Linked DNA regions of Homo sapiens: region 2 is linked to region 1. Evidence: fine-mapped expression QTL. A gene starts in region 1. The other region holds a variant in brackets. All regions are shown on one strand. Distances are between the middles of the regions. Region 1 holds the start of ARHGEF38-IT1 (ARHGEF38 intronic transcript 1). Region 2 overlaps ARHGEF38 (Rho guanine nucleotide exchange factor 38).

What was found.
Region 2: its variant is fine-mapped to the expression of ARHGEF38-IT1 in thyroid (GTEx, PIP above 0.99).

What each region holds. Positions count from the first base shown.
Region 1 is chr4:105,551,293-105,568,302 of GRCh38, reverse strand. ARHGEF38-IT1 (ARHGEF38 intronic transcript 1) reads right to left here and starts at 6,712. Exons shown (of 3, transcript NR_046840.1): 1 at 6,656-6,712; 2 at 4,938-5,001. It overlaps ARHGEF38 (Rho guanine nucleotide exchange factor 38), which reads right to left and starts at 15,683. Exons shown (of 14, transcript NM_001242729.2): 1 at 15,342-15,683. The coding sequence starts at 15,537. It overlaps LOC105377352 (a long non-coding RNA gene), which reads left to right and starts at 16,019. Exons shown (of 5, transcript NR_188418.1): 1 at 16,019-16,110. RefSeq lists enhancers at 11,425-11,974, 12,526-13,075.
Region 2 is chr4:105,577,226-105,594,235 of GRCh38, reverse strand. ARHGEF38 (Rho guanine nucleotide exchange factor 38) reads right to left here. Exons shown (of 14, transcript NM_001242729.2): 2 at 4,801-4,988. Among named protein-coding and RNA genes, the nearest start is that of ARHGEF38-IT1, 24 kb to the right of the region's middle. The variant G/A (reference allele first, on the strand shown) is at 7,857.

The sequences.
Region 1 (17,010 bases):
TGTGAGATGGTATCTCATTGTGGTTTTGATTTGCATTTCTCTGATGGCCAGTGATGATGAGCATTTTTTCATATGTTTTTTGGCTGCATAAATGTCTTCTTTTGAGAAGTGTCTGTTCATGTGATGGACTGGATTAAGAAAATGTGGCACATATACACCATGGAATACTATGCAGCCATAAAAAATGATGAGTTCGTGTCCTTTGTAGGGACATGGATGAAATTGGAAATCATCATTCTCAGTAAACTATCGCAAGAACAAAAAACCAAACACCGCATATTCTCACTCATAGGTGAGAATTGAACAATGAGATCACATGGACACAGGAAGGGGAACATCACACTCTGGGGACTGTTGTGGGGTGGGGGGAGGGGGGGAGGGATAGCACTGGGAAATATACCTAATGCTAGATGACGAGTTAGTGGGTGCAGCGCACCAGCGTGGCACATGTATACGTATGTAACTAACTTGCACAATGTGCACATGTACCCTAAAACTTAAAGTATAATAATAAAAGAAAAAAAAACCTTATATCTAATTTAATATTAATTTTTTAAATTACATATTGGATATTGAGTTGATATTGTGCTTTGTGTTGTGTATATTAAATGAATAAACAACAGCTCTTACCATCAAGATATGTATAATCTAGAAGTAAAGACAGGGTATTGAAGTCATGAGATAAATCAACATTTTCCATTATCTCCCTTAAATACACAAACTGATGTCTATGTACTTCTCCACTTAACAATCAAGGGGCATATTTTTCAAGACTTAATTGTGTTCAACAGCTGACTTCATTATGTCAGTTGTACTTCTTTGTAATTATATTACTTTAACGAAACTTACATAATTAATGAAATATGAGGGTAAAATACCATGTGTATGTTTCTGTGAAAACTGCTTTAATGTTTTGACATAATTTTATAAAGTCAAGTTGCCAAAGCACTGCTGTTATATTAGGAGTTGAATGAGACAAATTTAAAAGATTAAGAATTATTCCAGAAAGATTCTGCAAACAAATCACTTTGCATTTTAAAATATTGGTCAGTATTTAAAAACTGGTGTAAATGGAGTACTTACTATTCAGCCATAAAAAGAATAATATCCCATCATTTGCAACAACATGGATGGAACTGGAGGCCATTATGTTAAGTGAAAAAAGTCAGGCACAGAAAGACAAACTTTGCATGTTCTCACTTATCTGTGGGTGCTAAAAATTAAAACAACTGAACTCATGAAGATAGATAGTAAAAGGATGGCAGGCGAGGTGTGTAATCTCAGCACTTTCAGAGGCCAAGGCAGGAGGATCACCTAAGATCAGGAGTTCAAGACCAGCCTGACCAACATGGAGAAATCTTGTCTCTACTAAAAATACAAAATTAGCTGGGCGTGGTGGTGCATGCCTGTAATCCCAGCTACTCGGGAGGCTGAGGCAGGAGAATCGCTTGAACCTGGGAGGTGGAGGTTGCGGTGAGCCAAGATCGTGCCATTGCACTCCAGCCTGGGCAACAAGAGCAAAACTCCGTCTCTTAAAAAAAAAAAAAAAAGATGGCTGCCAGAGGCTGGGAAGGGTAGTCTGGAGGATGTAGTGGAGGAAAGGGGGATGATTAACGGGTACAAAAACATAGTTAGAAATAATAAGTAAGTCCCAGTATTTGCTAACACAATAGGGTGACTATAATAAAAAAATAATTTAATTGTACATTTCAAAATATCTAAGAGAGTATAACTGGGTTATTTGTAACACAAAGGATAAATGCTTGAGGTGATTGATACTCTATTTTTCCTGATGGAATTACTATGCATTGCATGCCTGTATCAGAATATCTCATGTAACCCATAAATATATGCACCTATTATGTACCCACAAAAATTAAAAATAAAAAAATTAAAACTGTAGTTAGTATAAATAGAATTATGATAACCTGTGACCCATGCAAGCATAGCACAGCCTGGACATCAGTCCTATGGAGAAGTGACACAGTTGAAATCTGAAACAGGTAGCACAAGGTGAAGAGAAATGCAAAAGTGTCATGAGCAAAAGAAATAGTATATTTAAAGGCTTGGTGGCAAAAAAAGATGCGAAAACAACTTAGTGCAGCTGAAGTACAAGTGATAGAGGTTGTGAAAAGGGGACAAGTCTAGAGAAATTCTCAGGAGACAGATCTCGACAATGAGGAATTTTTTAATAAATGAGGGACATGATTAGATTCTCTTAGCAAGATCACTTTGGCCTCCACTGAACTAGATTTGAGAGGGGAGGGTGAGGAGGAAGCCTGTGGGTAGTGAAGTGGCTCTTCGCATGGACAGTCCAGTCACTAGGGGAAAGAAGGAGGGAGTTAAGCTTAGTCTAATTGCCAAGAAGATAGAAAGAACAGAGCAGATCAAGGGAAATTCAAGAGGTGAAATTAGCATGAACTGGTGAGTAATCAATGCAGAGGGTAAAGGAGAAGTCAAAGCTGACTCTCAGATTTCTGACTTGTTAACTGGGTCATGGTGCCATTTAAAGAAATAGGGAACAACAGGAAAAGAGCAGGTAGAGGAGATAAGGTGATAAGTTCTGCTCAGCTCTATCTCATTATATAAAAAAAGGAAGCTAATTTCTAGAGAGAGTAAGTCTTCTACCTTAAGTAACAAAGCCAGAAATTGAGTTCAGAACTTCTGACCAACACTCCCTCCCTGCCTCTATCAGTCCGATTCCCTTTCTACCCGTATAGTGCAAACACCCACCCATAATTCAATATACAGTTTTATTCCAGACAGATCATTACGAAACCCCCAGATATGATTATAAATGTTCTTTCATCCCTCTCCATGCTGCCAATTTCATATCTGCCCCAATAAACCCAAAAAAATCTTGGCTTAGCATTGCGTCGAGCCCTACCAACATACGTTTCACACAGTAAAATCTTTTATCGTTTAAAATCAGTTTCAATGGAAATCTGACCCACAGAAAGATGAATGGAGCAGACTTCTGTGAAATAGGTTGAAAATAATTGCATGTCAGACAGGGTTTGGAGGGGAGCCAGTGAGGTATTAAGTGAAAATGTGGAGGAACAGACCCTCTGAGACTCTGAATTTGAAAGCTCAAATACTGGGGCTGGGAATATTTTATCTTCATTGGAAGGGCATGTGATTTATTTCCTCTGACTGCTAATTGGCATAGAAAGTAGATTAGTGGATTTCAAAAAGGAATTAAACAAAGCTTACCTGTCTTGAAAAATACTGAAGTGGTATTGGTTTGAATTTACAGGCTCCGACAGTGATCAGCATAGCACAGACAGAGCAATGAGGAGTTAAATAAATGGGTACTTCAGAAAATGTTTTTATTTAAAGTCTTTAGCAGAAGATGAGTGTCCCACCTTTCCTGACCCAAGCTTAAAATGTATAAAACCAAGTTGCTGGCTGACCACCTTGGGCAGATGTTCTCGGGATCTCCAGAGGGCTGTGTCACAGGCCATTGGCCACTCATATTTGGCTCAGAATAAATATCTTCAAATATTTCACAGAGTTTGACTCTTTTCATTGACAAAAGTAACACTGTCCTCCAGGCCAGAGATGAGATAGAGTCAAATTGGGAAAAGCCTTACATTCCATTTTAATATTGTAAACCAAGGGCCGCCAAACTTTTTTATCATTTTTTATTGTGGTAAAATATTCAGGACATAAAATTTACAATGTTAACTATTTTTAAGTAAACAGTTCAGTATCATTAAATACATTCACATTATTATGCAATCATTACAACTTTTTCATCTTCCCAAATTGAAACTCTACCCATTAAACAATAATTCCCCATTTCCTCCTTCCCCCAGCCCCTGGAAACCACCATTCTACTTTTTGTCCCTATGAATTTGACTACTCTCATATAAGTAGAATCATATAGCGTTTGTCCTTTTGTGACTAGCTTATTTTAGTTAGCACAATATCTTTGATGATCATCCATGTAGTAGCGTGTCAGAATTTTACTGCAAATGTTTTTATTGTGTCAGTTAAACTGTTCTGTGTATACACCTCTAATATACGTATCATATTAATGTATCATACATATTATGAAGCATGCACAACAATAAATATTTTCAAAGAGCAATACTGAAAAACAAACCTATTTTTTTCTTTGCACAATAGATTGTCTGTAAAATCTCCTGGGGTTTATATATTCCCCTCTTTGGGTACTGCTGCTAGCTATAGAAAAATGAAAAGCAATGAGGAGTGTTAAGCAAAGGAGCCATGTAGTTTGACATTCTGACCCAGTTTTTCACTGAGTACCCTAATCCAGGTAAGTACTCTGTAGTTAGTGATGACAAGGAGTTTTCAAAGACTAGATAATTCAGATAATCAGTTTTGTATTTTTAGAGCAGAATATTCTAGTGTTTCTGTGAAGTATGGACCTTATTCAATGCAAGTACATATCTTTCTAATTTCCAAGCACATAGAACATTTTGTTGAGAGGCATAAAATAACACAGCTACTGAAAAATACTTGTTGGTCACTGTTCACTTCAAGATTGCCGATGAATGTATTGGCAGAACTTACAGTTCTCTTGATGCTTGTGAGTATTGTTCAAAAGTTTATTAAAATCAGTTGATTTCTTAAGAGCAAACCATAAAACAGGTACTACTACTAAAAACTAAGGTTAGAACAGGAAAACTGCATGATGGTTGAAAAAGCCCTGACTTTGGAGCCAAGCAAACCTCAGGAAAACTCTGACTTCACCAGTTGCTATTAATAGCTATGTGACCACTGGGAGAATGCTTATACCTCTCTTAACCTCTGTTTTATCATCTATAAATATATGGCAATAACTTATTTGCAAAGTTGCTAAGAGCATGAAATGACGTACTGCACCTAAGTGCCTACTACAGATGTTCAGTTGGTGTTTGTACCTGCTCTTCCATTTAGAAATCCCCAAATACAAAAATTAGTATTATTACCTTGTTCCATGTATGAGGACCAGCATAATCCCTCTGCCTGGAATGGCTTCTGCCCCTAAAAGTCCTAATTGGATTTCAAGATTCAGATTTCAGTGTATTTTCTTTTGGCATTTCAGAGGTGCAATTAAGCTCTTTCTTATCATAGCTCCTATATTGCTTTATTTGTGTCTCTAATAATAATAACCACTTAATATGTGGTGGATGCCATGTTAGCACCCGTTCCCCTTAAAGGAAGGGATAAATTATTATTTCAGCTGCCGGGAGTGCAACCAGCAGATATGCCCTCTTTAGGAATTATCTCAGATGAAAGCACCTCTCAGGCCATGCCTTTTCCCAAGATAGCCACATCCCCAAACGTAAAGTGTGATACAAGGGCCCAGGTCCTTCACAACACTGGAGACAACTCCAAAAAATCATCTGTCTTCAGAACTTCCCTCAGAGTTGGCTAAAGCTTCCAATGAGACCACATCACAGCTCGGCCTCTCCCTGTGCCCAGGCTTATGTCCTTCCCTTTTCTTCCCCAGGTGGTGGTCACAGAATGTTGCCTAATAATTCCCCTCCACCCGAATCTCTATTTCAGAATTTGCAAGTCGGAAACCCAATTTGCAGTATACTTCAGGCCCTTGTTACATTACTGCAATAATTTGTTCACAACCTGTCTCACTCAGTGGGCTGGGTGTGCTTCTGATATTTTAAAAAACATTCTTAGGACCTAGTCATACCTGGCACATACGAATACCTAGCAAATATTTGTTGAATAAATTCATTTAAAAAGAGATCCTATTTTTCTTGGCCAGGAAACTCTTTCTAGTCTCTTCTTTAATTAAATTTATTTATTTATAATCTTTCTTTACAGAAAAAGAATGTAAAGAAATTAACTGAAAGTTAACTACCATTACATAGTGGGTAAGTGAAAATGACAGAATTGTAAAAGCAAGTATGTCATAAGGATCAATATAGTTGTAATTATTCACTGGATATTTTAAAGTCATTCAATAAATAGTCATTGAGCAGAATAACTGTATACCAGGCATTGCTTAAATGCTAAGTCTTTTTCCCCAAGGAGAATTATATTCAAATGACAGCAAAAGCCAAAAATAGAATGAAGTAGTATAATTTCATAGAGTAATAGATGGTATGAAAGCCACTGAGGGGGATCAGAACACACCATCCCTAAATATGCCACTTTGGGATACTGATTATTTTGAGCTGGAGATGCTCAATAGCAGATGCAGGAAGGGCTCTCTGCCTTTTCCTTTTTTACTTAAAAGCAGAGTGTAAATTTACCATGAGAAAAGTGCCCTCCCTGTATCACCAAGAAGGGAATATTCTCATCATCAGAGACAGGGAGTTGACACAGAGATGAATCTACACAAACAAATCTTACAAAAATAACCCTTATCTTCCATTAGCTTCTCCCATGTATTTCCTAGTCACTTTTCCACAATTTCTTTCCCCAACCCTAAACTCTTTTACTTTGGCTTTGTCATATCTCCACAATTTATGACCTTTGTTAAAATGTTATGTAAACCCCTAGGTCTAACTGCTTCTTTGAGGTTTTTACTTCTTTCTTCCTACAAAGCCTCCTACGACACATAAAAATGTTAACCTCAAGTAAAATGTGTATGCTTTTTCTTTTGTTAGTATGTCTTTTGTCTATACAATTCACAGGTCCTAGTCACAGAATTTAAGAGGGTAGAGGAAAGGTATTCCCTTACCTACATCACTTTAGGTCGGATGGTCAGGGAGGGACTCCCAAAAAAGACGAACAGAGACTTCAGTGATAAAAATCTGCTCTTGCAGAGATCTGGGGAAAGAAACTTTTCTATTCTATTCTATTCTATTCTATTCTATTCTATTCTATTCTATTCTATTCTATTCTATTCTATTCTATTCTATTCTATTCTATTCTATTCCATTCTATTCTATTCTATTCTATTCCATTCTATTCTATTCTATTCTATTATTCTACTCTATTTTTGAGACTCCAGGCTGGAGTGCAGTGGCATGATCTCAGCTTACTGTAACTTCTGCCTCCCAGGTTTGAGTGATTCTTGTGCCTCAGCCTCCCAAGTAGCTGGGATTACAGGCATGCACCACCAACCAGCTAATTTTTTGTTTTGTTTTGTTTTGTTTTCTTAGTAGAGACAGGGTCTCACCATGTTGCACAGACTGGTCTCAAACTCCTGGGCTCAAGCGATAGACCCACCTTGGCCACCCAAAGTGCTGGGATTACAGGCATGAGCCACCACACCCTGCCTCTATGGGAAAGAAACTTTTAGACAGACAAAATAGTTAATATAAAGGCCAGGGAACAAAAACAAATTTGACCCTAAGCTCCTAGCAGCTAAATATAGTAAATTGCTTGTTTTTATCTGGGAGGGGATGTGTTTTTATTCTTAAGGAGAGTCAGCTTTCCATTGAATAAAATCTGAGAGAGGTAAACAATGTCTTCATCAACCATTTCACAACAAACACAGAAGGAGAAATCTGTGATGGCTTTTTGTAGTGACACTGGAGACCTAACATTAAGAAGCATTCAGGAAAAACAGTTTCTGTGAAGTGCTATAATGACTCACAATACTTAGAGTAGTAGCTAGATGACATGACCTTTAAGTTTTCTTCTTTAAGTAAGAATTGTATGTCAGTCTAAGATTGCATCCTCTATCGAGGGCTTCAGTGCAGGTATCTTAGACTATTCATTTATTCTCTGATTCATTAATCAAGAAAAACATTGTTCAGAAAACCTTGGACAAAGTCTTAAATCATAGCACTCTGTGTTCCTGCTGCATTTAAGTTATGACTCACAATTTAAGCTGACTTCATACAATTCTACTGAAATATCACCTATCCAGATAAAAAGTTGCTTGTTTCCCACACATAATTCCATTCTTTTCATTTGCAAATGTATTCCCTCCTCTCATTGCTGTAGAATAGGACTCTCAGTTATTCTGATATATATTAAGTTTTATTGAGATGCAAATAAATGACAACAGGCATAAAATTAAAGAAAGATGAGTTTCAGTGTCAAGATACGCAATGAAGCAGGAAATGGAGATCATTAAGCTATTACTATAAGACAGTTTTGCTTAACCTACCTTTGTAATTTTGTTCCCCGACAACTAAACAAAAAAAGTATTTATTAAACAGTGACAGTCTGGCAGGGACATGCCACTATAAGTCAAAAGAAAGAAAATATATTCCAAAGTGAAAAACAGCAAGTTAAGCTTTATTATGGTAGCAGAGAAATGTCATCACATTACAAAACATGTGCTGCAACCATCAAATGGCTTTGACTTCTTAGTAAATCATATGTATAAAATACCTACTGAGTCAACTAGTTAAATTCATTCCATTTTGCAAATATTTCAAGCATGTGACATCTCAAACCCAAGGCCTACCACCTATTTTTCTCAATGATAAAATCAGAACTGAACAGAAGAGAAGTTGGGATTCAGTAACAGTGTGTGTGACAGCATCTGGCTAGCATAGCTCCTAGCAGATAACATAACACTAATACTCAATCTCTTCCTTCCCTCCCCTTCCCTCTTACTTTCACAACCTAGTATAGAAGAAGGGTTATATCCTGAAATAGATTACAGTCAAAAACCACACATAGCTGCCTCCTTTGTGGGACCTGGAGCAAGGATACAGATGGAGGCCAGCATACCAGATCTACATATTTAAAAGTTATAAATGAAGCTGGCAAACTATTAAATAAAATGTGATATTTCCTTCTGTCTTGATAAATATATTTTATAACAATCTGAAAGGCCAACTTCTAATTTAGATTTCTCATATCCCTCAGAGTTTTATGCCAAAATTTGGCAGGGGACCATGGGACACACGCACTCCTACCTAATCTTGAGGCTTGAATCCCTACTCTTCTCTCTACCAGCTTTCCCACCCAGAGGAACCTGGTAGACATGATCTGAACACTCCAGCATGATCAAGCTCCAGAAACACCCCCATCATCAATTGTGCCTTAGGCCTAAGAGCATGCACACCAGCAACCACAGTCTGCCCTTGAGAGCATGGGATAAGAAGCGGTCCAAGCAAATGTTGGAGCCAGTACTGAGGCCTGTTGAACAGAAAATTCCACAGTCTCAGAAACAGTCTAGAAGTGAAGGTAGGACTCCCAAATAAGCCATAACTTTGAGTCTTGACTGGTTCTAAGAACGATACTGCTTATAAATTTAGCAACTCTTGCAATAATTCTACTTTTATCAGGAAATCAATATTCATAAAGGTACTGATGCTAATATGATTATGGCATCAAGAAAAAGTAATTCTGTAAACAGAGGTTTTTTTTTTTCTTTTCCTGTGTCAACAGAAACAAAGATGAATGTGGCTTGGGTGCTTTTCTCTCTCCCATCATTTCTCCAACTTTATTACTATTTTAAGGTATATTTCTATTCATTCTTGCTGCTTGCTTGGTTTCTGTCTGTCTCTCCCCTCCCCTTCTCTCTCTCCTTCCTTTCTTTCATTCCTTCTTCCTCTTGATGTCTCATTTTGATAAACCCATAATTTTTATAAACAAAAAAAAAAAGCACAACTAGAAATTGTGTTTGCTACTTTTAAGAAAGTTATACCTAAAGTCATATCGGTCAAACATAGGAATAAATTTGCCCATCACAATATGGTAGTAGTAGAATAGCTCAAACAGTCTCAATTTCTGTGACTCACACATTATTTGACACAAATGGTCCTTCTAAAAACTGCAAGATGTCTCTACTGAAAAAAATAGGAAAGTAAAATACCGTGTTTTACACTGGTTTCTATATATGCAGTAAGACAAAAGTTACTGAGTTTTTAAAGCGTCTTGCCTTTTAGAAAGATTTGCCCTTCAAACTATGACACACACCTGTTTGTACTGGTGTCACATTACTGATTCAAATACTTCCCATTTCACTGTAGAGTGTATGAAGGCAGATAAAGGGGAAGGAGCTACTCACTAATCAAAGAACAGACACGAACAAAAAGGGTTTGTAGCACTGGGATAGAAACATGCACAGGAAGCTGGACAATTTGTTTTACTCCATTCTTCATTTGGCCTTGAACAAAACTCACCAAGTCTTCCAGTGTTAATTTCTGCTCCCTGACAGACTGTCTATATTCTTAAAAAACATTTTAAATTAAATGCCCTCATAGTCTTACCAAGTCTAATTTATTATTTGAGCCACTTGTCCCCACATGGCACAATCTGTTATTTTGTATAAAGTTCATACAGTAGGGTGGTTCATCTTTCGCACCATATTAAGACAACTTTGGGTCTCATAAAGATAACCTTTCTTAATTAGAATGATACAATAGCCTTTGCAAAAATAGAAGGTACCACAGACACACTAAGAAATGGAGACGTAATTTTTGCCTTGTGTTACCGGCAGTGGTAATGGGTAATAGCATTTTACCCATGTATTCTCACCTTTTCACCTGGTGTTGGATAAACAAAAATATGCACTGGCCAGAAAATTAACCAGAAGTTTAGTGTGGCCATAGAGGATAAAGGTAATCGACCCGTCTTGGTTGGTTTGGGCTGCTATAACAAATATATTAGAGATTAGGTGGCTTAAGTTTACCAAAAATTTATTTTTCACAGTTCTGCAGGCTAGAAAATCCAGAATCAAGTTGATCTTATTCCTAATGCGGAAGATCTTATTCCTGCTGAGAGCCCACTCCCTGGTTTGCACATGGCCACCTTCTTGTATCCTGACATGGCTGAGAGCAGAGAGAAGCAAGCTCTCTCTTGCCTTTTTTTTTTTTTTTTAAGGGTCACTAATCCCATTCACCAAAGCTTCACCCTCAATACCTAATTACCTCCCAAAGACCCCACCTCCTAATACTGTCACATTGGGGATTAGGTTTCACATAGGAATTTTAGAGGAATACAAACATTCAGTCCATAGTACCCATACTGAGAGGAAACCTATAATGTCAGTGATATAATTCATATATGGTTTTCAGAAAAGACTCCTGAATGTTAGTAAACTTTTGTTCTTTTTGTTCTTCAAATTTTATAGTAACTTTCAATAAAAAGTCTAATCATTGCAAAAAAGTGTCTCAAGTACACACACGAACACATACAAGTACATACATGTATATCTATATCTACATACTGGAGATATATATATATACACACATATATATACACATATATATCTGCATATGCACAGACACAGTTCTGTATAACTATTTAAATTAGGCATATTTCAAATGTAGAGATCATGTATATAAGTATTTATGAAACCCTTTCTGAGTTTTTACAACTCAACCACTAAATTTCTTGTATTTAGGTAATTTCTATGGCTCCCAGTAGAATGGAAATGAGGAATTGAGCTAGTGGAAGTTAAGATGGCTCTTGTCACTAATAGAAGAGGAATTTTTGAAATATGGTTGTTGTGTGCTCTGAAAGGTCGAGTTGGGAATGAAACAGGCTTCCACTAAGAATTACTTATTATATAAATTCTGTACATTTTAATCTCTGATGTTCATTTAACTGAAGAATCATCTTTCTGATAGAAACATGTGTCCTCACATATTTAGATAAATACAATGGCTCTTATTTCAGGCCATGGTGTCTTTCTTCACACCAGTTTCCTGCTTGGGCCTGATCATTCAAGTCATTCACTCTATTTAACAGTTACTGAGTGTTTACTGTATTCTGGGCTGCTGAGATGCAACAGTTAACAAGACAGATAGGGTTTCTTTCATGGTGTATGAGCGGGGAGGGAGAGAAAAGGGAGGGGAACAACAGTCAATAACAGGTGATAAACAAGGAAACAAAAACCATTTCAGACAGAGCTAAATACAGTGAAGAGGTTAAAATGCCATTCTCTTACCTGTACCTTCCCTCATCCCTACCCTTACCATTTCTTAGAGACACCATTTTCTGACAACCTCCTTCATGCAGTCCTGAATAGACCGTTTCCTCCTTTTGTGGACCCACTGATCCTACCTCCACTTCTATCATGCCACTTTATTGTATTTATTTGTTTACCTGTCTTATCTTTCCCAACCAGACTTTGAGCCTCTTTGGAGTAAAGGTCAGACATGTTTTCTTGATGATTTTGTAGTTGTAATTCCTGGCACATATTCTGTTTTTGCTGTTCATTGTAACCCTCAAGACACAGCATCTAAAACATTCAATAAATGTCAATTTACCAAATGTGTATGATTTTACAATTTGTATTCTTTCCAATGTATCAAGGGCCTTGAGAAAAATTAATTTCAAAGAACAAGGTATAACATATTCAATAAATGCTAGTCAACTGAATTAATCTGTTCAAGGAGTAAGGGAGCCTAAGGGTGGCCTTTCTATTATTATACAACTCCAGGCTTAGTAGGAATGACTATGTTGATGTGATCACAATCTTCTGCAAAGGTTTTAGGATGTCCTGGTTAGAGCCATGTTCTATCGTTTTAATTCAGCCAGTGTACCATTTTTAAAATTGTTATTACAACTTAAGTTTCATGCTACTAAAGTGATGTGAGAAATTGAATTGAACAGATAGACTAGGTATCATGAGTTAAAAGACAAGCTCAAGAGCACCAAAGAAAAATCTTACATTTTACGGAACCCAGAGAACTTGCTTCCCCAGAGAGTTAGAGCAGTGAATTTTACTCAGGTAATATAGCATTGAAGGACAACCAATTAAATAACTAATTAAATAACCAGCTAAATAATTTGAGGAATGTGGTGTTGCCAGAAATTCCAGTATTTGAAAGCACTCTTTGACCTCACAAGAGCTTTAGGCCATCTATCTGAGGGCTCTAACCAGTCCAGGTGTTTATTCAGTGCCTCCCAGGGACCACCAGTTCCAAGAAAGGGAGAGGAAAATCTCTCGGCATTTGAATAATAAAGAGCTTCTTAAGGTGATTTAGGACTCATCTGCATAATAATGGGTATCGTACAGGCCAGAGAACAAACGCACAGAACTGATTGCTTTGAACATTAATGAGAAAATGCCTTCCCTTGTCGCCTTCCCTGTTCTAGTCGAACCATGCTAAAAGCTCTATTAGGCGTTCGATAATCAGACTTGGATTCTTTTAAGGGTTACGTTTTTAAGATGTTACTTCTCAGGAGGCCAGCCTATCTTTATGGCTTATGTGCTCCTCTATACTTCTTGGTGATTTTTCTCAAGCACAGACTAGAAGCATGTATTAACTGCTGAGTTTTGCCTTCCACCTTCAAAGAATCCAACAGAGCACAGGAAAGCCACAAATCAAATGAAGTGCGTAAGAAGTCTGAGGTCTTCTGCAAAGTAACCAACCCATGTCTGCTCTCTTGTGTGGTCATAGACTTATTTTTTTAGGAAAATTTAGTAAGCAAAAATTTGTGAATAGCAAAAATTATTTTCTGTTTTTATTTTGCTAATGGAGACTCTGATAGATGCTGAATTAGTGAAACTCAGACAGAAAAAACATGTCATTAGGGATAAAGCAATGGGCTTTTCCTGAATTTCTAGATGTGGTCTCTTTATCAAAGGACAAAAAAGAATTGAAAAAGAGAAATAAGGTATACAAACTTCGATTAATATTGGGCAAGTTCTGTTTTATCATTATGGTACCCATTATTCCTAAAATTTATCAGCCAGTATACTAGATGTTTTGTAATTATCTAATTTCAATCTCCCAACAACACTATGTGGCAAGTATCATTAGTCCCACTTTCACAGACAGGAAAATTGAGGCTCAGATATTTCAAGTAATTTGCTCAAGTTCTAATTGGTAGTAAGTTGAAGAACCAGGTTTAGAAACTAAATGTGTATGATTTTAAATTCTCATGGTACATATTCATCATGGAATACTACACAGCCAGAAGAAAGAACAAAATCATGTCCTTTACAGCAACATGGATACAACCGGAGGCCATTATCCTAAGCAAATTAATGCTGGAACAGCAAACCAAATACTGCATGTTCTCACTTATGAGTGAGAGCTAAACATTAGACATACATGGACATAAAGGTGGCAACAATAGATACTGGAGACTACTGGAGTGGCGAGAAACGGACAGAGGCAAGGGCTGAAAAACCACCTACTGGGTACTATGCTCAGTACCCAGGTGATGAGATCATTTGTACCCCAAATCGCAGCATCACACAAAATACGCAAGTAACAAACACACATATATACCCCCTGAATCTAAAATAAAAGTTGAAATTTTAAGACATCCATTCTTTCCAATGTATCTATTGCTTGGAGAAAAATTAATTTCAAAGATTAAACAATGCTCTCCCTCATTTTAAAAAAAAAGTATTTGAGGATAAGATTGATGCTGTGCTTTAGTGCTGAACTACTGGTAATTTTTTTTTTATTTTTACACATTAACTTATAGTAATAATTTTTAGATTTAATTTAAATGCATTTAATTTAACTTATTTAACTTAATTAATTTGCATAACTAAATCTAAGCTCATATTTGTGGAAAGAGATTTGTTAAATATAAGCATGTCCTATCGGTCTTTCTGACCTCATCACAGTTTTTAAATCCAAAACGACAGCTCACAGTGGGATGATGAGAGTTCAGACACACCTTGTGCTAAAAGCAGGAGAGGCAAGTTCTGGAGGACCACATAACAAGTACCGAAGAAAAGACTTAAAATGCTGCCCAATATCAACATCAAAATGAAATTTTACTAGAACAAATGACCTTCAGGAAACAGGAGAGAAAGAAAGGATAGATAGGACAGGATATAGATTAAGGCCCTGAAACAAATGATGTGCTATCATAACTGTGCCAAATTATCTTTGTACCATCACAAAATAAACTGAAGTTATTTCCTCAAATGTCATTCAAAATAAGCATGCTAAACATTTCTTACCATATTTGAGTATTATTCAATTTACTCAAAGGAAATAATCACCTAAGTGAATTTCAGCAAATCTTTTTATACCGTCTCTCTGACTATAACATTCCTTCTTTGTCACAGACACGATTATAGTTTCATGCCCCTATTTAAGATAACCACAATCATAGTTCAGTACCATTACCTAGATATATCTCATGGTGTAATATCACATATCTACCCATTGAGATAAACAATCTTTTGTAGGTTTCTAACTCATTTGCTTTCCAGTGTTTCCCACTTCTTAAGTTGGGTAGAGAAGGGAGAAGAAAAGAGGAAGTTAGAAGAAAAATGATTACCCTCACCAGGAAAAAAAAAAGAAAAACACAGCAATATTAAGAGTAATTCGGAATTGACTCTTTAACATTGAATCACGTAATAAATTTTTTTCCCTATAATTTATAGGTCACATTTACTTTCATCTTCTTATTTTGTGGGAAGGAGAGGTGGTATTCAATTTTCCCCTCTGCCTTGTGTGTTTTCTTTGCAATTGGAAACGTAGCAGAAATGGAGCTGGGAGTGCAGTAACTGGGACAATTGATTTCTTTTTGGTTACCTTGTAATTTCTGGTTGTATTCGGTCCTGTCAGATTGGCTCCTCCTCAAGGTGCCAGAGTGGTCCCCAGAAACACTGCTCTCAACCACAGTGTCAGTCTTCCTTCTCTCCAGCATATAGAGTCTAGACCTCAAGAAGGCCAGATTCTTTTTCTTGGTGACCATGTTTTCTTTCCCAGTGGCTTCTTTGGGCTCCATATTAGGCAAAGACAAGCTTTGGAGGCTTGCAGGCAATGGCTGATTGCTAAGGTGCCTCAGGGTGAGGGTTAAAGCTACTAGAGTGACGAGTTTATCTGCTCCCTTCTAACTAAACCGCTTCACTCCAGGGTTACCTGGCTGTGACTGCCACCACCTCTACGAAGTCCCAGAGCTCCACCCACATGAGGTCATTCTTTTTTAAACCTAGAATCCAACAGGGGAAGCTGCCACCTGTTACCTGAGAGACTTGCAGCACAGAGCTAGGCAAAGCAGGGACTGTGCTGTCACATGCTACTGAAGCAAACAAAAATCCTATTGTATGGGGTGAGGGGTGGGGAAAAAGGAAAATGAACAAGGTGAGGCAGTGAGGAAGGAAGTACACGTTAGCATAACCCGCCGTTTATGGGTTTAATGTGTGCCCATGGGTGTGTGCAGGTGCACTCAGGGCACTGTGTTGTGGTCTGCTGCCTGGAGGCAGACCAGGGCTTGTGCGTGGCTTTTGGCTAGAGTTACTCACAGGTGACCCACGGAGTCAGTGCAGGGGCTATGAGAATTTGCATTTGCATCAAAACGGTGAGTACAGAATCATTTTCAGTGATTACTGTGCACACTCAAAGTTATGCTTCTGCCTTTAAGCGTTGAACATTCAGCAATTATTTACTGAAAACATACTTGCCAAACCCTGATCCGCATTCCTGAGGAAATAAGGATTCACATGTGAGAGTCATCTGGCAGCAGGCAGAAGAAGTGGAGGGGAATGCCCATAGAAGCCTAGAGCCTTTTCAGATTTCTCACTCTCCACAGGCTGCCCTTGCCTGAAATTAATCCTTCCATGGTCCCACCCTGTCCTTTTATGTTTTGGTCCTTAGGAAAATAAGCCCCGTGTCAGGGTTCAGTTTCTATAAGATCTTTTCCCTGTCCCTTTCATAGACGGAGTGCCAGAAAAGGGCATCCCACCTTGGGAATTTAAGGAGAGGAAAAATGTTTGAAACTGAAGGGGCACTACACTTCTAGAAAGTAGAAAGGATAGGGCAGGGATTAAAAGAGAGAAAGGCAGACAGTGATAGGCCTTTCATTAATTTTTTTGAAGTTGTTTTTCCTCATATTTCCTGAGATCTCTCAAGGGAAAAATTCTAAGAAGCTCTGGGAATGTGCTGAGTGCTCTGTATGCCTTCGTTAAAGAAAAGAAAGACCCTAAGGAGGAAAATGGATTCTCTCCTATTGTAAAGGGACCACCAAAATCCAGCTCTGTGCTGACCAGTCTGAATCTTGCATAACTTCTGTTGGAAAAGATTTATAAATGAGGAGAAAGATGTAAAAGTCATTTCCCAGCTCAGGATGTGTGTGCTCAATATAGTTTGCATAATTATCTTAAAAGATAAATGACACATCTTCACCCACTATGGAGACATCTATATATAGCTTGGCGTATTGAATGGCTTTTATTTAATATAATTGATAGTCTTTTTTGAA
Region 2 (17,010 bases), 26 kb before region 1:
CTCATATAAACGCTGATAAGAGTCATATGAGTACCCGAACATTTATTTACTTAATCAAAGGTTAAAAGTTTTGAGAAGTGGGAAAAAGGCAGATCTGACATGAGAATTCTGAGAACCTTAAGAGAATTGCTATTACCTTAGTGGAGAGAACTAATAGAATGAAATTAAAGTCCACAATGAGGAAGGCAGAGAGCAGACAGCATTGAAAGATAGCTAAATAACAAGGTCAAAGTGTGAAAAATCAACAACCTATAAACAATTCAAATAAAACAACCTAGAAAATGTGAGTTAGAATTTTGAGAATTGTAATTCACAGTATTGAGAGCAAAAGCCAAATGTGCCAAATAAACGACCATAAATGTTACCATAATGGAAAAGTTTTACCTGGCATGGTCTAAGACACCAATTCTGAGAACTGCTTATAAGAGTTTCATAGGAAGCCAAAAACAAGTAAAGAAAAATAACAAAAAGTAAAAGCACAAAAAAGAATTGGAGAAAATATATAAGAATACAGCTATCAATGACATTCATTTTAGCGGGGCTAGTTTGACTCACCAATGTAGCAGATTATTTAAATTGGCAACATTTTCATATAAGGTAAACTTAGTCCATTTGATACAAATGTGGACTAAGAATTCAAAGAAAGACTTTTCTTGTATATTTGATGTTTTTGTCTGTCTGTTTATTTGTTTCTTCTGGAGACAGGGTCTTGCTCTGTCTCTCAGGCTGCAGTACAGTGGCGTGATCATGGCTCACTGCAGCCTCAACCTCCTGGGCTCAAGTGATCCTCCCACCTCAGCCTCCTGAGTAGCCTGGACTACAGAAGCAAGCCACTACACTTGGCTGTTTTTTTTTAAATAGGGATGAGGTCTCCCTATGCTGCCCAGGCTGGTCTCGAACTCCTGGCCTCAAGCAATCCTCCTGGTTGTGCTGATCTTTCCAAAGTGCTGGGATTACAGGTGTGAGCCACTGCAACTGGGCGTGTTTTTTACTGTTTTTTATATTGATCATTAGCCAATCGCAGGGACAGATTTTTGATAAATTGTGCTTATTTTGAAACATGTTTTAGTCACAAATGTTCTTATACCTAGTAAATATTTTATATTTAATTTTAAAATAGACAATGAATATAGATGATTCCTTTAGGATCGAGGAAAACAATTTTTTTGGTTTGTTTGTGTTTGATTTTGGTTTTTAAGATAGTAGATAATAGTGCTATGAATGATTCCATAAGGAGGGTAAACTAATTATTCAGGAGAGAGAAAGGACACAGACTGGAGTAAAACCTTTCAGTCTGAGGGGATAGAATCCACTGCACTAGCAGAGAGAGGTCATCCTTCATTAGAAGCGGGAACCATTGCTTCCGGTAATAGGAGGAAGCCAACTTATATAGGTAGAGATGCAGTAAGTTGGTAGATTTGGTGTTGGGAGTGTGCACATCTTATTGTTTCTAGTTTCTTTATGAAATGATGGAAAAGGGCATAAGCTGAGAGAAGAAAAAGGGGTGTTTGACATGTGAGGAAAAGAATGTGAGAGAATCTCCTCAGAAACATTACTGGGGGCCCCAGTAGAAAGTGGTCATGAATTTTATAAGAGATTAATTCTGCTGCACAGGTAAAGGTGTGAAGTAGACGAAAAATTGAACTTCACTCGAGTAAGTTGTTGCAGGGAAGTAAATGGAAAGAAAGAGAGAAAAAGGAATTGAGGTCGTGTGCAAGGAGCGATTATAATGAAGGACCCATAGAAATTAAAGCATCTTTGGGCCCGATGAAGAGAGAAATGGTAGTAATGTCCATAGTTTGGAGGTCTCGGTGCCATCAGAAGGTTGTCAGAAATCGTACCAGTGGGAGTAGGCTTGGGCATCAGAGAATAGTAAGCTTGAAATTCTGATTTTGAGGGGATGAAGTTGTTGGTAATGGCAAGTTCTAGGTTATGACCCTGGCGTGAGTGGCTGAATGGGATTGAGGAAAGATTGTTGGATATGAAAAAGTGAAAGAACTGAGAGGCCCGAATGTTGCATGGGTTATTTGCATGAATATTGAAATTACCTAAAAAAGATGTCAGAATTAAGGAGGAGAGCGAGAGAGTGAGAATACATAGACACAGTGGGCTAGGTTCCAAATTTTTCAAAGAATAAGAGTTGACAGGGAGGACTGTACCATAAGGAAAGGTAGTGACAGAGTCTGATGCTATGTGCATTTAAAATCAACATTTGAATAAGTATGTAAATGAACATGTTAGTAACCATTGATATCTGCCAGAATAGCAGTTATATCAAATACATCTGGTTTATATGTTAATAAAATAAAGAAAACACAGCAGAAAACATTTATATACGTAGCAATGACACTAAAGAGCAAATTTTTATCACGACCATCAATATTACTTCTACTCTTACATCATGAATAAGAAATTTCCAGGTTTTCAGAAAGTGTCTGGTAATTCTGGCGTGGGAACTGTGGGGGATTAAATGAGAATGCTAATGAAGTGCCTGGAGCAAGATCTGACATATAGTAAGCATTAAATAAAAGTCATGAGGCAAACTGAAGATGACTTCCTGTGTAAGAAAAGGCTTCCATGCCTTCTTTGCTACTCCTCTTTATACATTGTCTTAGACCAAAAAACAATTTTTGTGTCAGAAGTGCCTTGACCTATACTGGTTTTCCCTAATATGTAGGCCAGATGGTTTTTTAAAAAATATTTCTGAGGCCGGGCATGGTGGCTCACGCCTGTAATCCCAGCACTTTGGGAGGCCAAGTCGGGTGGATCACAAGGTCAGGAGATGGAGACCACCCTGGCTAACACTGTGAAACCCCGTCTCTACTAAATATACAGAAAAATTAGCCGGGTGTGGTGGCAGTCACCTGTAGTCCCAGCTACTCGGGAGGCTGAGGCAGGAGAATGGCATGAACCCGGGAGGCGGAGCTTGCAGTGAGCAGAGACAGCGCCACTGCACTCCAGCCTGGGTGACAGAGCGAGACTCTGTCACAAAACAAAACAAAACAAAAAAATCTGAGAAGAGTACTGTGTTAAGAAATATAAAATCTGCTCCTGAATGTTGTAAATAGTTGGGGGCATGACAGGCTAGCAATGCTTTTATAATCATGGGTAATATTAAAATATGTCTCAGAATCAATAAAGTTGGATATATTTGACTAAACATGGCAAAAACAAAATAAACATACATCTTAAACAAGGTTAGAAACCAAAAGACTTACCAGAAAAATTATTTGCAACATGTGGGATGGAAAAAGAATAACTCTAATACACAGAAAGTTCTTATAAAATAATAAGAAAAATATTAAACCATCATTTTTTAAAACAGCAAAAAACATGGATATGAATAACAGAAAAGGCCAATGAATATATGAGAAGATATTTATCAGAAGGAATCAAAAGAACATTTATGAAATCAACAAGTCTCAGCATTAAAGAGGATGCAGAGAAAATGCTCTCTGAATCATTATTAATAGGAATGAATATTAAAATCATATTGACTTTCTGTTTGGCAGTTGTCCATTTTATTCAAAATCTTAAATATGCATACCCTTTGACCTAACAATTAATTTCTAGGAATTTATTCTAAGGATATAAGGAAACAAACATCCAAAACATCTCAACCACTGTAATAGTAGACAGATATTGAAAAATATTAGTACTCATAAAAAGATACATGTAACAGATTTATGGATGAAACAAGTATGTTACAAGATATTATTTGTAGTTTTGATCACATTTATGTAAAAATATATGTGCTTGTATATGTATATGTAAGTGTTCAAATAGATGTCTGAGGGGATATGTCTGATTGTGTTAATGGTAATTTTCTTTGACCGTGGAATTTCTGATCATTTTCACTTTCTAGCTTCTGTTTTTCTATATTGTTTGATTTGTGTATTTACAACCCTAATGATGAGTTATCACTCCTTGGAGTCTTTGCCCTTGTATTCCACTTTGCCTGGACCATTCTGTTACCTCCTTCAGTTCTCTGCTCAATGTCCTCCACTGGAAAAGTCTTCATTTGCCACTCTATTTGAAATAGAATGACCACTCGTTTGTCCCCATCTCTCTCTCTCTCTCTTTCTTTCTTTCTTTTTTTTCTTTCTTTCCTTCCTTCCTTCCTTCCTTCCTTCCTTCCTTCCTTCCTTCCTTCCTTCCTTCTTTCTTTCTTTTTCTTTCTTTCTCTCTTTTTTTTTTTGAGACAGAGTCTCACTCTGTTGCCCAGGCTGCAGTGCAATGGCGCGATTTGGCTCATTGCAACCTCTGTCTCCCGGGTTCAAGCAATTCTCTTGCCTCAGCTTCCCAAGTAGCTGGGATTACAGGCGTGTGCCACCATGCCCAGCTAATTTTTTGTATTTTGTAATTTTGTAGAGATGAGGTTTCACCATGTTGGCCAGGCTGGTCTTGAAATCCGAACCTCAGGTGATCCTCCCACCTCAGCCTCCCAAAGTGCTGGGTTACAGGCATGAGCCACAGCACCCGGCCTTGTCCCCTTATTTCATTCCTTTTCCCTGCTTTAGTTTCCTCAGCCATACTTCACACCATATAACATATCTTAATTTTGTTTGCTTATTTATTTATTGTGTATTGTCTGACTCCTCCTTTTCTGCACTAGAAAGTGAACTCCACAAGGGCAGGACTTTGTTTTGTACTAAACTGTAACCCCAGAGCTGAGAACAGTGCTGTTTTGGGGAGAAAGGCACATCATCCCATTGATACACCTGAGTGCTTCAATTTCATGGTGCTAGTGATCCTATTTATGATATGGGAGAGAAAAAAAAATCTCAAATATATATTTACCTTTTTATTTCTCAGGGGCTGAACCACTTCCCTAACACACAGCTCTAGATCATTGAGATAATCCTTTTCTGTCTGTATCAGCTCCTTAATGATCTTTTCCCGCTTTGCCATCATCCTCTTCATATGATGCTCTTCCTCTGGGGTTAAGGTCTCAGCTACAGAACACTCACCCTGTGGAGTCATCTTTTCTGTTAAATGAAAACATATACAGGTGAGGCATTCTGCTGAGGTTTCTTTTTCCTTCATTACAAACAACGCCTTCGAAGGACTTTGTTAACAAGGAAAAAGGCTGAAGGTATCCTCATGATGTTTTCTTAGGAAGTGATATATGGACATTCCCCTACAAAACTATAAGCAAGAAGAAAAGTGGGAGCGAACTTCCTCTAACAAGTGAGTTAAATGATACTCAATTATCGTGGCTTCTTTAAAATATCCCATTGTTGTAGCTTAGCCTATAAAGCCGGTATTCAGCCTGGAGATCAAATGTATAAAAAAAACAGTTCACAACTTCCGTTCACATTTGCTTTTAAATCAAGGGAAGAATTTTAATTAGTAAATGAAATGCCTTTAATTAGTAAATGAAAATGAATTTTGTCACTGCTATTAAAAACAATTACCTCTCATTCTCAGTGGGTAATATCCAAATCTCAATGAAATGGAAAACAATTGCATGATTGGAGTTTTTCTTTTCAATTCACTATCAGAATCCATGAGGAGTGAAGAAGTGGTGGATTAAATAAATTTCAACTGAAATTTTTCATGGTTCATCTTTTATACCAAGCATATCTTGTTATTTCAAAATTCTTGAACTGTCGAACAGAAAGTTTTAATTTAAAAAGTCACAGTACTGGGGAGATAATGAGATAAATGGGAAGCCTCACACATAGCAAAAGTTTATATGAAGTATTCAAGTAAGAAAGCTAAGTATCTTCAAGGACGAGCTCCCCAGAGCAATGTAAAATTTTGGAAGCCACAAACCAGACCACAGACCATGAAATCAAAGTGGCGATAAACATCAGGGCAGTGTGTGAGTCTGTGTATGTAAGAGTGTGTGTAAATGGATTTGCTTCAAGCTTGAAGCTTAATTTTCATCTTAGTCTCTGCAGTTGCAGAAGTAATTATATTTCATTTAAAGTTAACATGATTCTAGTAACTGGTATATGAGACATCTTCAATGTTGACACATTCCCTGAGAATGTGGGACTTTACAAAAGGGCCTATAAAGAGTCTGTACAGTAAAAAATAAATGTACAGGTCACAATGTATGAAAGTGAAAATAAACAGTGTTTTCTTGGCTGACTCCGGGAACAAAGCTAAGACAACTGGAGAAACAATATAGCAGAAGAGTTAATGGTGTGATGTCAAGAGACTGCCCCAGGAATGTGAACAGACACTTTAAAAAGTAATGAGCTCTCTCTCTGGTCCACTAACTTCAGCATTTAAGGCAGAGACTCAATATTCAAACATCTGTGGAGAGTAATTCCAGCATCAGTTTGGAAGCTATACTAGGTTGATCTTTGGACAATCCAGACCCACAGGTGAGTATGTTTGGAACCATTTATCGCCTACCAATCCCTCCTTCATCAGGAAAGCAGGAAGTTTTGACAAATAGCATCCAAAACCACATGGTTTTATGAGATTTGGGCTATTTAGTGCTAAGGAAATAATCCACATGAGGCCGGGAGCAGTGGCTCACACCTGTAATCCTAGCACTTTGGGAGGCCGAGGCAGGCAGATCACAAGGTCAGGAGATCGAGATCATCCTGGCTAACACGGTGAAACCCCATCTCTACTAAAAATACAACAAAAGAGCCGGGCGTGGTGGCGGACTCCTGTAGTCCCAGCTACTTTGAAGGCTGAGGCAGGAGAATGTCATGAACCCGGGAGGTGGAGCTTGCAGTGAGCCGAGATCGTGCCACTGCACTCCAGCCTGGGCGAGAGAATGAGACTCTGTCTCAAAATAATAATCATAATCATAAATCATAATCCACATGAGCTATATAAGAACAGATAATCTATTCAAGGAGAGAGAATGAATGCATGAGATATCCTGTAGCCCTCCAATCCTGATCTATATTATGAGAATTTGGGGGTGCTTGCTAATTTGTTTTTTTGTTTTTTGTTTTCAGAAACAGGTTCTCACTTTGTCAACCAGGCTGGAATGCAGTGGTGCAATTGCAGCTCACTGCAGCCTCAAACTCCTGGGCTCAAGCAATCCTCCCACCTGAGCTTCCCGAAGCACTGGGATTACAAGTGTGAGCCACTGCACCAGCCTAATTTGTAATATTTGCATTGGAAAGTAGAAGCAGCCTGCCTCTCAGTGCCCCAGATTTGAAAAAGCAAGTTACAATCACGTGTCATTACAATGAATTATTTTGGATATGAAAGAGGAAGACAGGACACCTTATGAGAGGAGCTGCAGTGAGGAGGCTGCATTGTGGCCCTTTCTTTTTAAAAATGTGTATATTCAAGATGTACAACATAATATTTTGATGTATTATACATAGTGAAATGATTGGGTGGGGGTGGGGGAGACTGAGGGCAGAGAGGTGTGAGGGACGTCCTTTACTCCTGGAGTATGTGAAATAGAGCACAGGAGGAAATCTCATGCGTAAGAGAGCTGACAAACCAGTATGGACACTGCCCAATTATCACTTAATGTTTCCTTGAAAATAAAAATGATGCTGATGAAAAACTGCTCTGACATTGCTTTTCCAGGTTCTAAACCTTCTATGCCTTATAAAATTAATCTATGAATTATTTGGGATCCTAGCAAGGAGAAGGAAGTTTTTCCTGATCGTCGACAAAGGAATATCCCTAAAACATGCATTTGGGTTCCTTTTAGTTCTAAATTCCAGGACTCAATCACAATGTTAACTTAACCTGCTTCACAGACGTTTCAGTTGCTGCACTTTAAAATGTACTACATCAGATTTTGTCAATTAAAAAATGCTTAGGTTTTCCAATACTGCTCAACAACTTGTTGAGAACAAATTTGTGGGGGCAAGGTGGGTGAAATAAAGTGTCAGTGAAAATACTCAACTTCTCCCTCAGGT[G/A]TAAAAATCTCTCAGAGAATTTACAGTTGAGCAACCTTATGAGATATCTTTGTTTGCTCTTTTGACTCAAGTTTATTGTAGGAACAAAAACTTCACTTGCATCATTTTATGGTCAGGTTTCTAAACACTTTCTATGTTTGCATTTCTTAAACCAACAAACTCTGCAATGCATTGTGGACACATTTTGTTTTTGTAAGATCTTTCTCTGCATTTAAACATTTTATCTTTTAGTTATACTTAGCTTTTATATATAAAAGTATTTGGAACTCAACAATATTGCCAACACATATCGCCCAAATCAGCAGTCAGCTATAGCCCGTCTTTTATTTCTGGATGAAGCAACCGAGGGGGCCTGGCGCAGTGGCTCATGCCTGTAATCCCAACACTTTGGGAGGCCGAGGTGGGTGGATCACCTGAGGTTAGGAGTTTCATACCGGCCTGACCAACATGGAGAAACGCCATCTCTACTAAAAATACAACATTAGCCGGGTGTGGTGGCACATGCCTGTAATCCCAGCTACTTGGGAGGCTAAGGCAGGAGAATCACTTGAACCCACCAGGCGGAGATTGCAGTGAGCCGAGATAGTGCCATTGCACTTCAGCCTGGGTGACAGAAGGAGACTCCATCTCAAAAAAAAAAAAAAAAAAAAAAAGCAACGGAGGGGCTATTTAGGAAAGAAGGAAAAATTGTTTTAAGAATAAATGTTTCCCAATAGTTTGCATATAATAAAATACAATGTCAAAGCCAAAGTGAAACTAAGGTTAAAAGGATATTCAGATTGCTATAACAGAAATATGCAGCTGTATATTAAAGCAGTACCATGTAATTGACTTCACTCTGTATTTCTTTCACACTCAAGCTTTATTTTTCCAGTGGTGATGTGAATTTTTACTATTCTAGCCACAAAATTCATTAATAATATATGTGGAGATTCCTGGCCAAGGAAGTTTATATAAAAAGAGGTTGTTGCAGTTTGGGAAAAGGATAATCTGACTTGAGATCAGCTCTGCCACTCAGCTGTGAGAACACAGTAGACTAATAACTAATAGTTATCCTCACAGAGCCTTGGTTTCCTTACCTGTAAACTATGCATGAAAACCATCACAGTGTGATCATGAAGACTGAATTAAATGAGCAGCTCCATGTGGAAGCTCCTTGAGATCTTTAAAACAATACAAATGTTAACTATTTCTGTGGGAATGGGAAAAATAGGGTTACTTTCTCTACAGTCTCAAACTCTTCCACCATCTAGAGCAAACAATTATCCCATTATTTTGTGGTTACCAACTTGTCAAGAAAAATGCATGACTCTAAAGTGGGTGGACAGCTAGTTCAGTTGGAAGAGGAAGAGGAAAAAAAATAGGGATGCTGCTTTCGGAGGAAAGTCAGAACAAAGCTGGGGTTTAGAATCCTGAGCAGTTTATCTGGCTTGGGTATATGCGTGGGGAGAACCTCGATCTCTTAGAGAAGTGCAACAGCACCCAAAGGCAAAGGGGTGTTGGGGGAGGACTGAAGACAATCTTCACTGATAGCCACGTTTTGCTTAGAATTTATCCTATCCTGTTTTTCCTTTCTTCTTGCTTTTGCTACTACTACTGCCATTTTGGGGTGGATTTAAGGAGAGGTAATTTCTTTCTTTCTTTCTTTGTAAATTATAAAATAATATGTAATTGTAATATCTATCTAAGTTATATATAGATAGACATAGAAATAGCTATAGCTATAGATAGATAGACATAGATACAGATAGAGAGAGAGATGTAGATATAGTAGAGGTTTAAGTGCATAGCCTTGGGAGCCAGACTGCCTGGGTTCAAACTCCACCACTACCATTTATTAGATCTATTACCTCAGACAAGTTACTTAGCTCTTCCTGTATCAATTTTCTCATCTGTAAGTTAAGGATAACGTTAGTAAAGCCTTATAAAGTGATTTCGAAGATTAAATTAGTTAATGTCTGTAAAACACTTGTAACAGTGCCTGGCATTATACTGGATATCTTGAAAATGTTTTATTATTATTAGATGCAATCCCTATTTATTAATTGTAATATTATTTTTACTGTATTATTGGTTGTATTCTAGTGTAGTGTATAGGCTTCTCAAAATATCTCCATGCACATACAAATACACATATTTACAGAAGTTCAGTTTTTTGTTTTATTTTTTAACAGTAACAAGCTCATATACATATTCTTCTGCAACTTGCTTTTGCAACTATAACAGTATATAGTGGGGATCTTTTTTGTAACAACAGCATAATTGTGTCAGACACTGCTGTTGTCTGCACAGTATCTATTCTCCTATTTGTTTTTCATGAACTGAACCATAAATAGATAAAAATATTTATTTATTGGGCAATTTTTAAATCAAGAGTGGGAAAAGGGAACATACTCAGGAAACATATCCAGATAAAGGATCAGAAAAGGAAACACACTAAGTAAAAATAATGCTCCAAAGAAAGAGACATCAATAAAATGATTTGTCTCAGCCTTGGTGGTGATCAATAGAAAAAAAAATAGCATCCCTTAACAATTCAAGGACACTAACTGGCTCTCATATGGATTTGAGATCTGAAATTATTGAATGCTTAACAAATAAATAGTAAGGGCTTACTATGAGCCCAAAATCATCTTAGGCTCTGGGGATACAGCAATAAAAAAAAAATTCCTTTCCTTATGGAACTTTACTTCTAGTTGGGGAAGAAGAACATAAATAATTTAAACAAGTTATTTAGTATACTAAAAGGTGATAAGTGATATAGAGAAAAATAATGCTATGAAAGCTGCTAGGAAGAGCTTAAAACGTGTGCAATTTTAAATAAGATGGCAGGAAAGGCCTGAAATAGAGTTGAAAGGTGAGAGAGTCATGCAGATATCTGGGAGAGGTGGTTTTTAGCAGATGAACTGGTCAGTGGAAAACCTTAAGGTGAGCGTGTGCATGGCCTATTTAAGGAACAGGAAGCAGAGCAATGTGTGGCCAGGTAGGAGGACGCTGGGGAGAGGATAAGAGATTTGGTGGACAGGACAGCTTGGGAGAGATTGTGGAGACTTCTAAGTATTTTAAACATTTAAACATTTTTGTGATATTGCAGAAAAGCTAAAGACATTAATGAACTTTAGATGTTTTTAAATTAAGGATATATGTTAAAATTTCAAGGCCAACCATTAAAATAAAATAGCATGTAAAATTTCAAAACCAGTAGAGGAGAGAAAGCAGTTCAAATGAAGAAAGGAGAAAACCGAAAGAGAAAAACAAATATAAGGCAGTCGATTCAAATCTATGTGTAATCATAACTCAAGTGACCATATTATCAAACTGTATTCAAAAAACAACAACTATATGCCATTTATAGTAGAGAACATAAGCACACAAGAAGATGAAAGTACAAAAATATATACTGAGCAAATACTAATTAAAGGAAGGGTGAGATATAGCTATTTTACACAGATAAAATAGACTTTAAGGCAAAAATAAAAGTGGGCACTATATAGTGATAAAGTGTCCCATTCATTAGGAAGATATGAAAATTCTAATTCTGTATGTACTAAATAACATGATTTCAAAACATGTGAAGCAAAAAGTGAAAGAGTTGAAGGTAGAATTTGACAAATCAGTCTTAATAGTGATATTTTAAACATAACTGTCAGTAACTGATAGACTGTTAGGACAGAAAATATTTACTCCAATAATTAGAGATTACATAGTATTTTTAAGGACACTTGAAGAAATACATTATAAATTAAGTTATAACATTTCAAAGAATTAGTAAATTGAGAACCACAACTACCATGAAATTAATGTAGAAATAAATAACAAAAATAAAATGTTAGGACTCATTTGTTTTGGAATTAATAGAGAACCAAAACCTACAAAATAACTGATGGGTCACAGAAGAAATGACTAAAGTGAATAGAAGATATCTGTTATAAGGATAAGAAAAATATTACAAATTAAAACATGTGGAATGTAGGTAAAGCACTGCTTACAGAAAATTTATAGGCTTAAATTCATATACAAGAAAAGAAGCAAGAGTGAAAATGATTTGACTCTTAACTAAATAAGTAAAAAAAAAAAAATACAATAAGCCAAAAGAAAATAGAATAAAGGAAATTAAGAACAAAGCTTAATGAAATTGAATAGAAACTCAAGTCAGGCTTCAACTGTTCCTTGCAGCTACATTGCAAGGAATACGAGATTTTTTTTTTTTTTTTTGAGACGGAGTCTAGCTCTGTCGCCCAGGCTGGAGTGCAGTGGCATGATTTTGGCTCACTGTAACCTCCACCTCCTTGGTTCAAGTGATTCTCCTGCCTCAGCCTCCTGAGTAGCTGGGATTACAGGCGCCCGCCACCACACCCAGCCAATTTTTTGTATTTTTAGTAGAGACGGGGTTTCACTGGGTTGGCCAGGCTGGTCTCGAGCTCCTGACCTCGTGATCCACCCACCTCGGCCTCCCAAAGTGCTGGGATTACAAGCGTGAGCCACCACACCCGGCCATAGGAATACGAGATTTTAAGAAATCCTAAAACACACACGGAAACACGATACCATGAGTCAGATGCAGAAAATAAAATTGATAGCATAATTATATCCACAAAGTCTTAAGTTACTGAAATTATTAGAGATATAAAAAGGGTACTTAATAGGTTTAAAAAACAAGTAATGGTTTGAAATTATAAGCAAGAAACAAGAGAATATAAAAATGATCAAGTGGATTTTAAAAGATAATACAGAATCTTAAAATAAAAGCTCATAATAATTAAAATTTAATTATTTTGTTTAATCAATAAATGGCTAAGTTGAATAAATAGTTGAGTTGTATAATGAACTAAATAGTAAATTATACAAAGTTAAAGAGATTAATGAACAAGCCAAGAAAATTTTATAGAATGCAATAGACATGTAAAATATGTGAGAGAGGTTAGGAGATGTTGAGGATTGAATAAGAAGGTTCAACTAATGTTTACTAGGAGGTCTAGAGGGTATAATAGAGAATGTAAGGAAGAACATTATTTGAAGTGCTCAAAGCTGGGAGCTTTTCAGAATTTTTGAAAGATGCTATTCCTGAGTTCATTCCAAGATGGCCAACTACATGCAAGCAGGAGAAACATCTCCCACCAAGTGACCAAAACACTGGGAAGACTGGTGCACTCCTAGTAAATCTTCAAAGAAAAGGCATTGAGAGGGGACAGAAGGAAGCCACAGATGCTGGGCTCAAGGCAGAGAAAGCTGGGAATCCTGTATGGGGCTACGGGGCACCGGGACTTGTTCTTGGCCTCCAACTACTCCTGCAGGTGGGGTGAGTTAAACAGACAAGGAGTACTTCAAATAATGCTTCTTCCTTACAGTCTCTATTATGCCCTCTAGACCTCTACAGAACTCTCCACCAAAAAACAAACAGAATAGTCCCGGCTTGGTGGCTCATGCCTGTAATCCCAGCAGTTTGGGATGCCGAGGTTGGTGGATCATTTGAGGTCAGGAGTTTGAGACCAGCCTGGCCAACATGGTGAAACCCCGCCTCTACTAAAAATACAAAAACTAGCCGGGCTTAGTGGTGGAGAATTGCTTGAACCAGGAAGGTGGAGGTTGTAGTGAACTGAAATAGTGTCACTGCACTCCAGCCTAGGCAACAGAGCAAGACTCTGTCTCAAAAAAACAAACAAACAAAGACACAAACAAAAAAACCAGAATATACATTCTTCTCATTGCCACACGGCACATACTCTGAAATCAACCACAAAATCAGACATATAATTATGCTCAGTACATGTACAAAAATCCTTGAAATTTTGCCAACCACTCTCTCAGACCATAGTACAATAAAATTAGAATTAATGACCAAGAAAATTGCCCAGAACCACACAATTACATGGAAATGAAACAACTTGTTCATGAATGACTTTTGGGTAAATAATGAAATTAAGGGAGAAATCAAGAAGTTTGTTGAAACCTATGAAAACAAAGACGCAACATACCAGAATCTCTGGGACACAGCTAAGGCAGTGTTAAGAGGGAAATATATAGCACTAAATGCCCACATCGAAAAGTTAGAAAGATCTCAATTTTACAACTTAACATCACAAATAAAAGAGCTAAAGAAGGAAGAGCAAACCAACCTCCAAGCTAGCAGAAGACACAAACTAATCAAAATCAGAGCTGAATAGAAGATCGAGACATGAAAACCATTCAAAAGATCAATGAATCCAAGATCTAGTTTTTTTGAAAAAATTAATAAGATAGACTGCTAGCTAGACTAATAAAGAAGAAAAAAGATCCAAATGAACACAATTGGCAATGGCAAAAGAGGTAATACCACTGACCTCACAGAAATACAATCATCAGAGACTATTCTGAACACACAATGCACACAAACTAGAAAATCTAGATGAAATGGATAAATTCCTGGACATATACACCCTCCCAAAACTGAACCAGGAAGAAATTCAATTTCTGAACAGACCAATAATGAGCTCCAAAACTGAGTAAGTAGTAAATAGCCTACCAACCAAAAGAAGCTCAGTACCAGAGGGATTCACAGCCAAATTCAAACACATGTACGAATAAAAGCTGATATTATTCCTACCGAAGCTATTCCAAAAAATTGAGGAGGAGGCACTCCTCCCCAACTCCTGCTATGAGGCCAGAATCATCCTGATACCAAAGACTGGCAGAGACACAACAAATAAAGAAAACTTCAGGCCAATATCCTTGGTGAACATCAATGCAAAAATCCTCAGCAAAATACTGGCAAATCAAATCCAGCAGCACATCAAAAAGCTAATTCACCACAATCAAGTAGGCTTCATCCCTGGGATGCAAGGATGGTTCAACATATGCAAATCAGTAAATGTGATTCATCTCATAAGCAGAACTAAAGACAAAAACCACATGATCATCTGAACAGATGCAGAAAAGGCTTTTGATACGGTTCAATATCCCTTCATGTTAAAAACTGTCAATGAACTAGGTATTGAAGGAACATATCTTAAAATAATAAGAGCCATCTATGACAAACCCACAGCCAACAACATACTAAATGGGCAAAAGCTGAAAGCATTCCCCTTAAAAACTGGCACAAGACAAGAATGCCCGCTCTCACCACTCTAACTCATCATAGTATTGGAAATCCTGGCCAGAACAATCAGGCAACAGAAAGAAATAAATGGGATCCAAATAGTGAAAGTATTCCTGTTTGCAGATGACATAATTCCATATCTAGGAAACCCCATAGTCCTGGTACTCCTTCAGTTGATGAACAAATTCAGCAAAGTTTCAGGATACAAAATCAACATACCAAAAAAACCCCACTAGCATTCCTATACACCAAGAACAGCCAGGCTTGATATGCACCAAAATAGAACTTCTTGACAGCATAAAATCCACAGGGCTTATAAAACAGTAACATAATGAGAAAAACTGAAAGTATCTAGGTAACAATGACATGATAAATGAAACTATACCTCACATCTCAATGTTACATGTAAGTGGCTAAATGCTCCACTTAAAATATACAGATTGGCATAATGGATTAAAAAAATCACAAACCAAATATCAACTGTCTTCCAGAGACTTACCTAAAATGTAAAGATTCATATAAATTCATGGTAAAAAAGTGGAAAAAGATATTCTATGCAAATGGAAACCAAAGCGAACAGGAATGGTTATTCTTAGATCACACAGACCTTAAAGCAACAACAGTAAAAGACAAAAAGGTCATTTTATAATGATAAAAGGATAATTTCGACAGGAAGATATCATAATCCTAAATTCATATGTACCTTACACGGGAGCTCCCATCTTCATAAAACAATTACTACTAGACCTAAGACAGCAACACAATAATAGTGGGAAAATTCAATACTCCACTGACAGTACTACACAGATCATCAAGACAGAAAGTCAACAAAGAAACAACAGACTTAACTTATATTCTATAACAAATGGACCTAACAGATATTATAGAACATTCTACTCAAGAACTGCAGAATATACATTCTTCTCATCAGCACATGGAACATCCTCCAAGACAGACCATACAATAGGCCACAAAACAAGTCTCAATAAATTTTGAGAAGTCAAAATAATATCAACTATCTTTCAGACCACAGTGGAATAAAACTAGAAATTAACTCCACAAGGAACCCCCATAGCTATACAAACACATGGAAATTAAACGATCTGCTCCTGAATGATTTTGAGGTTACTGATGAAATCAAGATAGAAATTTAAGTATTCTTTGAAATTAATGATCATAATGACACAAGTTATCAAAGCCCTGGGATACAGCAAAAGGAACACTAAAAGGAAAGTTTATAGTGCTAAACGACCACATTAAAAAGTCTAAAAGATCACAAATTGACAATCTAATGTTACACCTTAAGGAACTAGAGAAAAAAGAACAAACTCAATCCAAAGCTAGCAGAAGAAGAGGAATAACAAAGATCAGAGCAGAACCAAAAGAAATTAAAACAAAAAAATACAAAAGATCAATGAAACAAAAAGCTGGTTCTTTGAAAAGATAAACAAAATTGATAGGCCATTAGCAAGATTAACCAAGAAAAGAGAGAAGATTCAAATATGCTCAATTAGAAATGAAACTTGAGACATTACAACTGACACCACAGAAATAAAAAATGATCATTTGAGAGTACTGTGAACATTTCTAGGCACACAAACTAGAAAACCTATAGGAAATGGATACATTCCTGGAAACATACAACCCTCTTAGATTAAGTCAGGAAGAAATAGGAACCCTGATTAGACCGATAAGCAGCGAGATGGGAGAAGTTAACTAGAAATTTGCCAACAACAACAACAACAACAACAAAAACCCAGGACCAGATGGATTCACAGCTGAATTCTATCAGACATTCAAAGAAAAATTGGCATCAATCCTACTGAAACCATTACAAAAGATAGAGGAAGAGGGAATCCTACCTAAATTATTCTATGAAGCCAGCATCACTCTGATACAAAAATCAGGAAAGGATATAATAAAAAAAGACTATCGCAAGAACAAAAAACCAAACACCGCGTATTCTCACTCATAGGTGGGAATTGAACAATGAGAACACATGGACACAGGAAGGGGAACATCACCCTCTGGGGACTGTTGTGGGGTGGGGGGAGGGGGGAGGGATAGCATTAGGAGATA